Homo sapiens: one gene and its partner. The protein of the gene in region 1 purifies or fractionates together with the protein of each later gene. This does not show direct contact. Each region holds a gene or a part of one and is shown on either strand. Other genes may lie near its edges.

Region 1 (3,651 bases):
TGGCTTACGCCTTTAATCCCAGCACTTTGGCAGGCCAAGGCAGGCAGATCACTTGAGCCCAGGAATTCCAGACCAGTCTGGGCTACACAACAAGAATTCATCTCTGTAAAATATTTTTTCAAAATTAGCCGGGTGCAGTGGCATGTGCCTATAGTCCCAGCTACTTGGGTGGCCAGGGCAGGAGGATTGCTTGAGCCCGGGAGTTTGAGGCTGCAATGAGCTGACTGGACCACTGCATTCCAGCAGTGGGCAACAGCATGAGACCCTGTCTCTTTAAAAAATAAAATAAAATAAAATTCCTTTGATAGAAGAACTGCTTTCTGAATAATTTTCAGAACTTATTCAATCCTTTATTAAAATTATGTATCGAAAAATAAGTATATGCATTTCCTTTCTTGCTACTTTTATTAAAACAGATAAAAACAATTTTAAAAATTAATTTTGCATAAAATTTTACCAAGTAACTACTGGATATTGCCAGAAATTAGTTTTACCTGTTGTACATTTATCAATATTCATATTTTTCTATACTCCTATCATGCTTAATGTATATTCTCCTTTAGTGTAATCAATGTAAAATGTATTCTAGAAAGGTAGAGGCCATATCTGTTTCAATTCAAAATATGCAGTTCAGCAAAGTAGTAAATTCAAGTCAGCCCAATACTTTGATGACTATGTTGTCAGATATCTAAAAATCTTCACCTGAAAGTGTTGAAATAGTCTCAAATGTTGTTTCCAAAGTAGAAGCAACAGATGCTACTTTATCTGCCGCCAGTACGTAGAGGTCTCCAGACTTAGAACATTTCACAACAGCATACCTAACATAAAATTTTAGGAGAAATTACTAATAATGAAACAAGAAAAGCCACAGATATCATTTTAATTTTTAAATAATCATTTTAGAAAAAACTGACTTCAGGCCAGCGCGGTGGCTCATGTCTATAATCCCAGCACTTTGGGAGGCCAAGGCAGGTGGATCACCTGAGGTTGGGAGTTTGCAACCAGCCTCACCAACATAGAGAAACCCCATCTCTACTAAAAATACAAAATTAGCCTGGCGTGGTGGCGCATGCCTGTAATCCCATAATCCCAGCTACTCGGGAGGCTGAGGCAGGAAAATTGCTTGAACCCGGGAGGTGGAGGTTGTGGTGAGCCAAGATCATGCCACTGTACTCCAGCCTGGGCAACAAAAGGCAAAACTCGGTCTCCAAAAAAAAAAAGAAAAAAGAAAAAACTGACTTCAAGATCAAACTGTACTATTTTCAAAACACTTTGTAACTTATACTTCTATTTCATTTTCCCGAAAAGCTGGATAAGGTCATAAAAAGGATCACCTAAAGGTTAATAAAATCTATATGAACATAATAACTAAGTTATAATTCATTAAATTTTACAATAATAAACAGGATAAAATAAATTCAAAATAATGTTAATAATGGAATACATTCTATTTGTGTATAAAACAAAAAATGCAATAATATACCCACTTTGATTCAGGCATATAGCAAACAGCTTCATTGGCTGGAATCGTCCAAGGTTGTGTGGTCCAGACCAAAATACTAACAGGAGATGAACCATCTGTGAAAATACAATTGTAAATATGTTAGCAAATGGGATAATTCTATAACTTTGGTACACTCAAGCTATGAATAAATCTTACCTATAAGAGATGCCAATTTTGGAGAAGGCTTTAAGAGAGGAAATTTTACATATATTGAACGACTGACATGCTCAGGATTATATTCAAGTTCTGCTTCAGCCAATGCAGTCCTAAGGGTTAAAAATATTAAACATAAATACTTGGAAGCCTCACAAATTTCTCCCTTTTAATTACCGAAAAATGCATATATACCTAGATGACGGAGACCAAAACACAGGTTTGTAAGATCGATAAACCAAGCCCTATAAAAGACAAAAATATGATGTTAAAAGTAGAATCTTGTAACGCATACTAAAACCTACTCAAAGAGAAAAAATACTTCTTTACCTTATCATACATTTGGTAAAAAGTTCTCAACTGTTTGGCTTCATACTTCCCATCAAATGTATAGTAGCAATTATTCCAATCTGCCATTATTCCCCAACGAATAAATGCTGATTTCTGTTTCTCAATGGCTGCTTTAGCAAATGATCTAGCTAAAAAAAAGACGAAAAAAAGATTTTAAAAAACCAATGAATTCGAATTCTTAAACATGGTTTAGCATGTATCTCTCTAAATGCAAATGCTACAGACAGTTTAGAATGCAAATTTTTTTTGAGACACAGTCTCGCTGTCACCCAGGCTAGAGTGCAGTGGCGCGAGTGGCATGATCTCGGCTCACTGCAAGCCTCTGCCTCCCGGGTTCACGCCATTCTCCTGCCTCAGCCTCCTGAGTAGCTGGGACTACAGGCGCCCGCCACCACGCCCGGCTAATTTTTTTGTAGTTTTAGTAGAGACGGGGTTTCACTGTGTCAGCCAGGATGGTCTGGATCTCCTGACCTCGTGATCTACCCGCCTCAGCCTCCCAAAGTGCTGGGATTACAGGCGTGAGCCACGGCGCCCGAGCACAAAATTTTTTTTTTTTGAGATGGAGTCTTGCTCTGTTGCCCAGGTTGGCATGCAGTGGCGGATCTCAGCTCACTGTAACCTCTGCCACACAGGTTCAAGCAATTCTCGTGCCTCAGCCTCCCAAGTATCTGGGACTACAGGCGTGAGCCACCATACCTGGCTAATTATTTGGTATTTTTAGTAGATACGGGGTTTTGCCATGTTGGCCAGGCTGGTCTCAAACTCCTGACCTTAGGTGATCGATCCACCTCCCTCAGCCTCCCAAAGTGCTAGGATTACAGGCATGAGCCACTGTGCCCAGCCTATAAAAATTTTTTAATAGAAAAATAATTTGAAGGTCAACAGTGTTCAGAAGATACCTACAACAAATTCTAAAATTAACTGGAATTGCAAAAGTTAAAATTTTATTACTGTCTTCTGTATTTTCCAGACTTTATACAATGACCTCATATTTAGGACAAATAAACTGGAAAAATTATTCCTTATTGTTTCTTAATTTAAGAAAAGGTCAGATAACAATTTTCATTTCATTATACACAAAAAATTAATCAGAATATCAAATCTAAGCCAATGATAATAGGTTTCACAAGGAAGTAAAAAAATCTTCACAGTTACATCCAAATGTACAATAGTATAACATATAAGAAAAAGAGAATCCTCCCTTGGCCCAGTCGACTGAAGAAAAAGGATCAAATAAAAGATTAATGTAAAATATATGTATTTTAGAATTGAATTTTGGCTTAACACCTAAAATCAGTCAACAAGCCCCCTTGAGGAAAGCAGAAAAAAGAATTTACCAAAAAATAGTTTTTTAAAATATGAACATTAAGAAACTGAGAATGCAATCAGAAATGCTCACAAAGTCTTTCCTTCAATATCCAAACATAAGTTCTTACAAAAATCAATGAAATAAAATCTGAATTTTCTGTGACAGAAAGGCGTTTCCAATAGATCTTATTATAAGCAAACGAAACCCAAACAAAAGGTTCCTTTGGTAAAGTTCTGACTATTTCAAGGACCTGAGTGTTTACAAATATCATTTTAAAACAGAAATACAGATTATTTACCTTTCTTTCTAATTTCCATAGCTGAAAGATTCTGAG
Region 2 (3,651 bases), on another chromosome or scaffold:
TCCCAGGATCACCATTGTCCCAGCTTTTCGTCACAGGACAGACTTTCCCCCTTGCCCCTGAAGAAGGAAAAGGACTGTATCTCTACCAGAGGAGGACTGGTGAGCAAATCGCTGGCGAGGGCAAGGCTAGGAAATATGCCTGCCTCTCAGGGTCAGGAACATACTGCCTAGCTCCAGGGAAATCTCAAAAGCCAGGCAAATATCAAGAAAATCCTAAATTCTTTCTAATACCCAGGGCCTTCGGAGTTTAAGAAAGTGAGAAATACCTTCTGGTGAGTCCAGTAGAGTTGACTTCGAAGCAGATCACAGGTCAGGGAAAGGAGCAGGTATGTGTCAGTAGTCTGATCGAGATGCTTCAGGCTCGATGCTGCCTCTTCCAGGTGTAACTAAGGAAGCAATCAGAGGGCACATGAGGAAAGGCAGCCAGGCTCTTCAAACAAAACTGGAGTAAATAAGGGTGGCCATGTGGCTCACACCTGTAATCCCAGCACTTTGGGAGGCCAAGGTGGGCGGATCACCTGAGGTCAGGAGTTCAAGACCAGCCTGGCCAACATGGTGACACCCCCATCTCTACTAAAAATACAAAAATTAGCCAGGTGTGGTGGCACGCGCCTGTAATCCCAGCTACTCGGGAGGCTGAGGCATGAGAATCACTTGAACCCGAGAGGCAGAGGTTGCAGTGAATGGAGATCGCGCCACTGCACTCCAGCCTGGGCAACAGAGTGAGACTCCGTCTCAAAAAAAAAAAAAAAAAAAAAGTGGAGTAAAGTATTTACAAGCAAAATGTTCAACATGTCCAATAAATATTACATTATTTCAGATATTATAATCTGCATAGGAGTTATTGATTCACTCTCTAAAATGTCCATTTAACACTTGGTTAACCACTTTTTTTTTTTTAGGACGGAGTTTCGCTCTTGTTGCCCAGGCTGGAGTGCAATGGTGTGATCTCAGCTCACCGCAACCTCCGCCTCCCGGGATCAAGTGCTCTCCTGTCTCAGCCTCCCAGGTAGCTGGGATTACGGGCATGCGCCACCATACCTGGCTAATTTTGTATTTTTAGTAGAGACGGGGTTTCTCCATGTTGGTCAGGCTGGTCTCCAACTCCTGACCTCAGGTGATCTGCCCACCTCAGCCTCCCAAAATGCTGGGATTACACGTGTGAGCCACTGCGCTCAGCCTGGTTAACCACTTTTAGATTAAAGCTATATACAGAGTAAGCAGTAGCTGGGCACGGTGGCTCATGCCTGTATTATCAGTACTTTGGGAGGCTGAGGTGGGAGATCACTTGAGCCCAGGAGTTCAAGACCAGCCTGGGCAACATAGTGAGACTCTGTCTCTACAAAACATTTAAAAATTAGCCAGGTGTGGTGGCATGTACCTGTAGTCCCAGTTACTCGGGAGGGTGACGTGGAAGTGGAAATGGAAATGGAAATGGAAATGACACCACTAAAAACAGAATGCTATAAACAGAATGATGTCTTCTGTTTCCAAAGTCAATATACTAGAGTGATGCAAAAATAGTAAGAGTGAGATATTTTGTGGCAAAGTTATCCAGGGGTAAACACTGCAGCCGTAAGCGCTGGCAAGTATTATTGGGGCAAAAGGGAACAGGGTTAAGCAGGAAAGAGATTACATCACACCTGTGCCTACCAGTGGTCGTTAAGAAGACGAAGTAGAAAAGGGAGAAACTGGAGGCAAGGAGACCAACCAGGAGACACTGTGATAGCTTTACATGAGCAATGAAGCATCAACTAGGGCAACAGAACCAGTTAGGAAATACAAGACTGGCGGTAGGTTCCTGCAGCAGTCTGTAAACTTAATGAACAACTGGTTTTGCAGGAAGGACAAAGATGACTCCCCTTCTTACAGCTGCCTCCAACTGCTCCACACTCCACAATTCTCCAGCCAGTTGTGGTGGTAAAAGGCCGAGAAGCTGCCCCTTTGATATCCTGTCTTCTCAGAGGTGGGCCTCTAAAGCTACGGGCCCCCTGCAGTCCCCAGACTAGGCTGGTTGGGCACTCACCTGGGCATAGCTGGGACAGCCGAGGGTCAGGAGGAGCTGGGTGATGTGGCAGGAGGAGCCAGCTGCCTTCGAGTGGTCCTTCAGTCTCTCAGAGACAATCCGTAGCAGCAGGAGGACCTCCAGAGCCTGCATGGGCTGGTCAGCAGAAGCAGCCAAGTTTACTCCACCCCTGCTCAAGCCTCTATTTCTACCCTCTGCTCCCCAGCCCTTTGGGACCTTGGACTGTAGTTTGACCTCAGGGCCTGGGTGGAATGTAGTTACCCAGATGAAGCAATCATCACCCCACCCCTACTGTTTTAAAGCCTAGATGCCATTCATCATCAATAGCCAGGATTTTCTGAGTTCTTACTATGTGCCAGGCACTGTGCCCAGGCTTACATGCATCAGTGCATTTAACCTTCATAACAAGTCTAATCCCAATTTTACAGTACAGGAAGCTAAGACTCACATGGGTTAAGTTGCTTGTCTAAGTTCATATAACAGGTATGTGGCAGAACCAAGTCTCAAATCTAGGGCTGAGGTAGCTTCCCCTGCTAGAAATATGGTTTAATAGCTCATAGTTAACAGCATGTATAAAGGCTTTTTGTTTGTTTGTTTGTTTCCTAATGTGGAGTCTAGGGTAGAGCTTCAGGAATTTTGTGAAACTCCCTGAAATAAGAATGTACATGGCCTTATAGGCCAGGCACAGTGGCTCATGCCTGTAACCCCAGCACTTTGAAAGGCTGAGGCAGACGGGTCACCTGAGATCAGGAGTTCGAGATCAGCCTGGCCAACATAGTGAAACCCCATCTCTACCAATAATACAAAATTAGCAGGGTGTGGTGGTATGCGCCTGTAGTCCCAGCTACTCAGGAGGCTGAGTGAGCCAGGAGAATCGCTTGAACCCAGGAGGTGGAGGTTGCAGTGAGCTGAGATCACGCCACTGCACTCCAGCCTGGGTAACAGAGCAAGACTCTATCTCGGCGGGGGGGCGGGGCGGAAAGCTGGGTGCGGTGGCTCACGCCTGTAATCCCAGCACTTTGGGAGGCTGAGGCGGGTGGATCACCTGAGGAGATCGAGACCGGCCTGGCCAATATGGTGAAACCCTGTCTATACTAAAAATACAAAAAAGTAGCCAGGCGTGGTTGCGTGCCTGTAGTCCCAGCTACTCAGGAGGCTGAGGCAGGAGAATCACTTGAACCCAGATGGCGGAAGTTGCAGTGAGCCCAGATTGCGCCACTGCACTCCAGCCTGGGCGACAGAGTGAGACTCCATCTTGAAAAAAAAAAAGAAGGCACACATAAGAATGTAAGAATGTAAAATTGTGTCTAAAGGCATCTATGTATTTTTCTGATAGGTAACAAATCATCTAATAATTAAAGCTAACTTTTTTTTTTTTAATGAAATAGCGTGAAACAGCATCTTGCTCTGTCCCCCAGGATGGAGTGCAGTGGCGCGATCTTGGCTCACTGCAACCTCTACCTCCTGGCTCAAGGGATTCTCCTGCCTCAGCCACCTGAGTAGCTGGGATTACAGGCACATGCCACCGCACCGGGCTATATTTTTTTTATTTCTTGTAGAGACGGGGTTTCGCCGTGTTGCCCAGACTAAAGCTAACATTTGAGCATACCATTTACACAATACCT

What was found. Proteins that work in one complex are often made in the same cells at the same time.
Region 2: the proteins of IARS2 (region 1) and ESPL1 purify together in Homo sapiens (affinity purification with mass spectrometry; 2 studies listed by BioGRID and IntAct, with this or other methods). This does not show direct contact.

What each region holds. Positions count from the first base shown.
Region 1 is NC_000001.11:220,100,614-220,104,264, reverse strand, and holds part of IARS2 (isoleucine--tRNA ligase, mitochondrial precursor), read right to left. Parts: coding exon 3,616-3,651; intron 2,137-3,615; coding exon 1,988-2,136; intron 1,903-1,987; coding exon 1,853-1,902; intron 1,771-1,852; coding exon 1,661-1,770; intron 1,579-1,660; coding exon 1,488-1,578; intron 819-1,487; coding exon 703-818; intron 1-702.
Region 2 is NC_000012.12:53,278,242-53,281,892, reverse strand, and holds part of ESPL1 (separin), read right to left. Parts: intron 2,162-3,651; coding exon 2,027-2,161; intron 387-2,026; coding exon 267-386; intron 1-266. UniProt on the Homo sapiens protein: Caspase-like protease, which plays a central role in the chromosome segregation by cleaving the SCC1/RAD21 subunit of the cohesin complex at the onset of anaphase. During most of the cell cycle, it is inactivated by different mechanisms.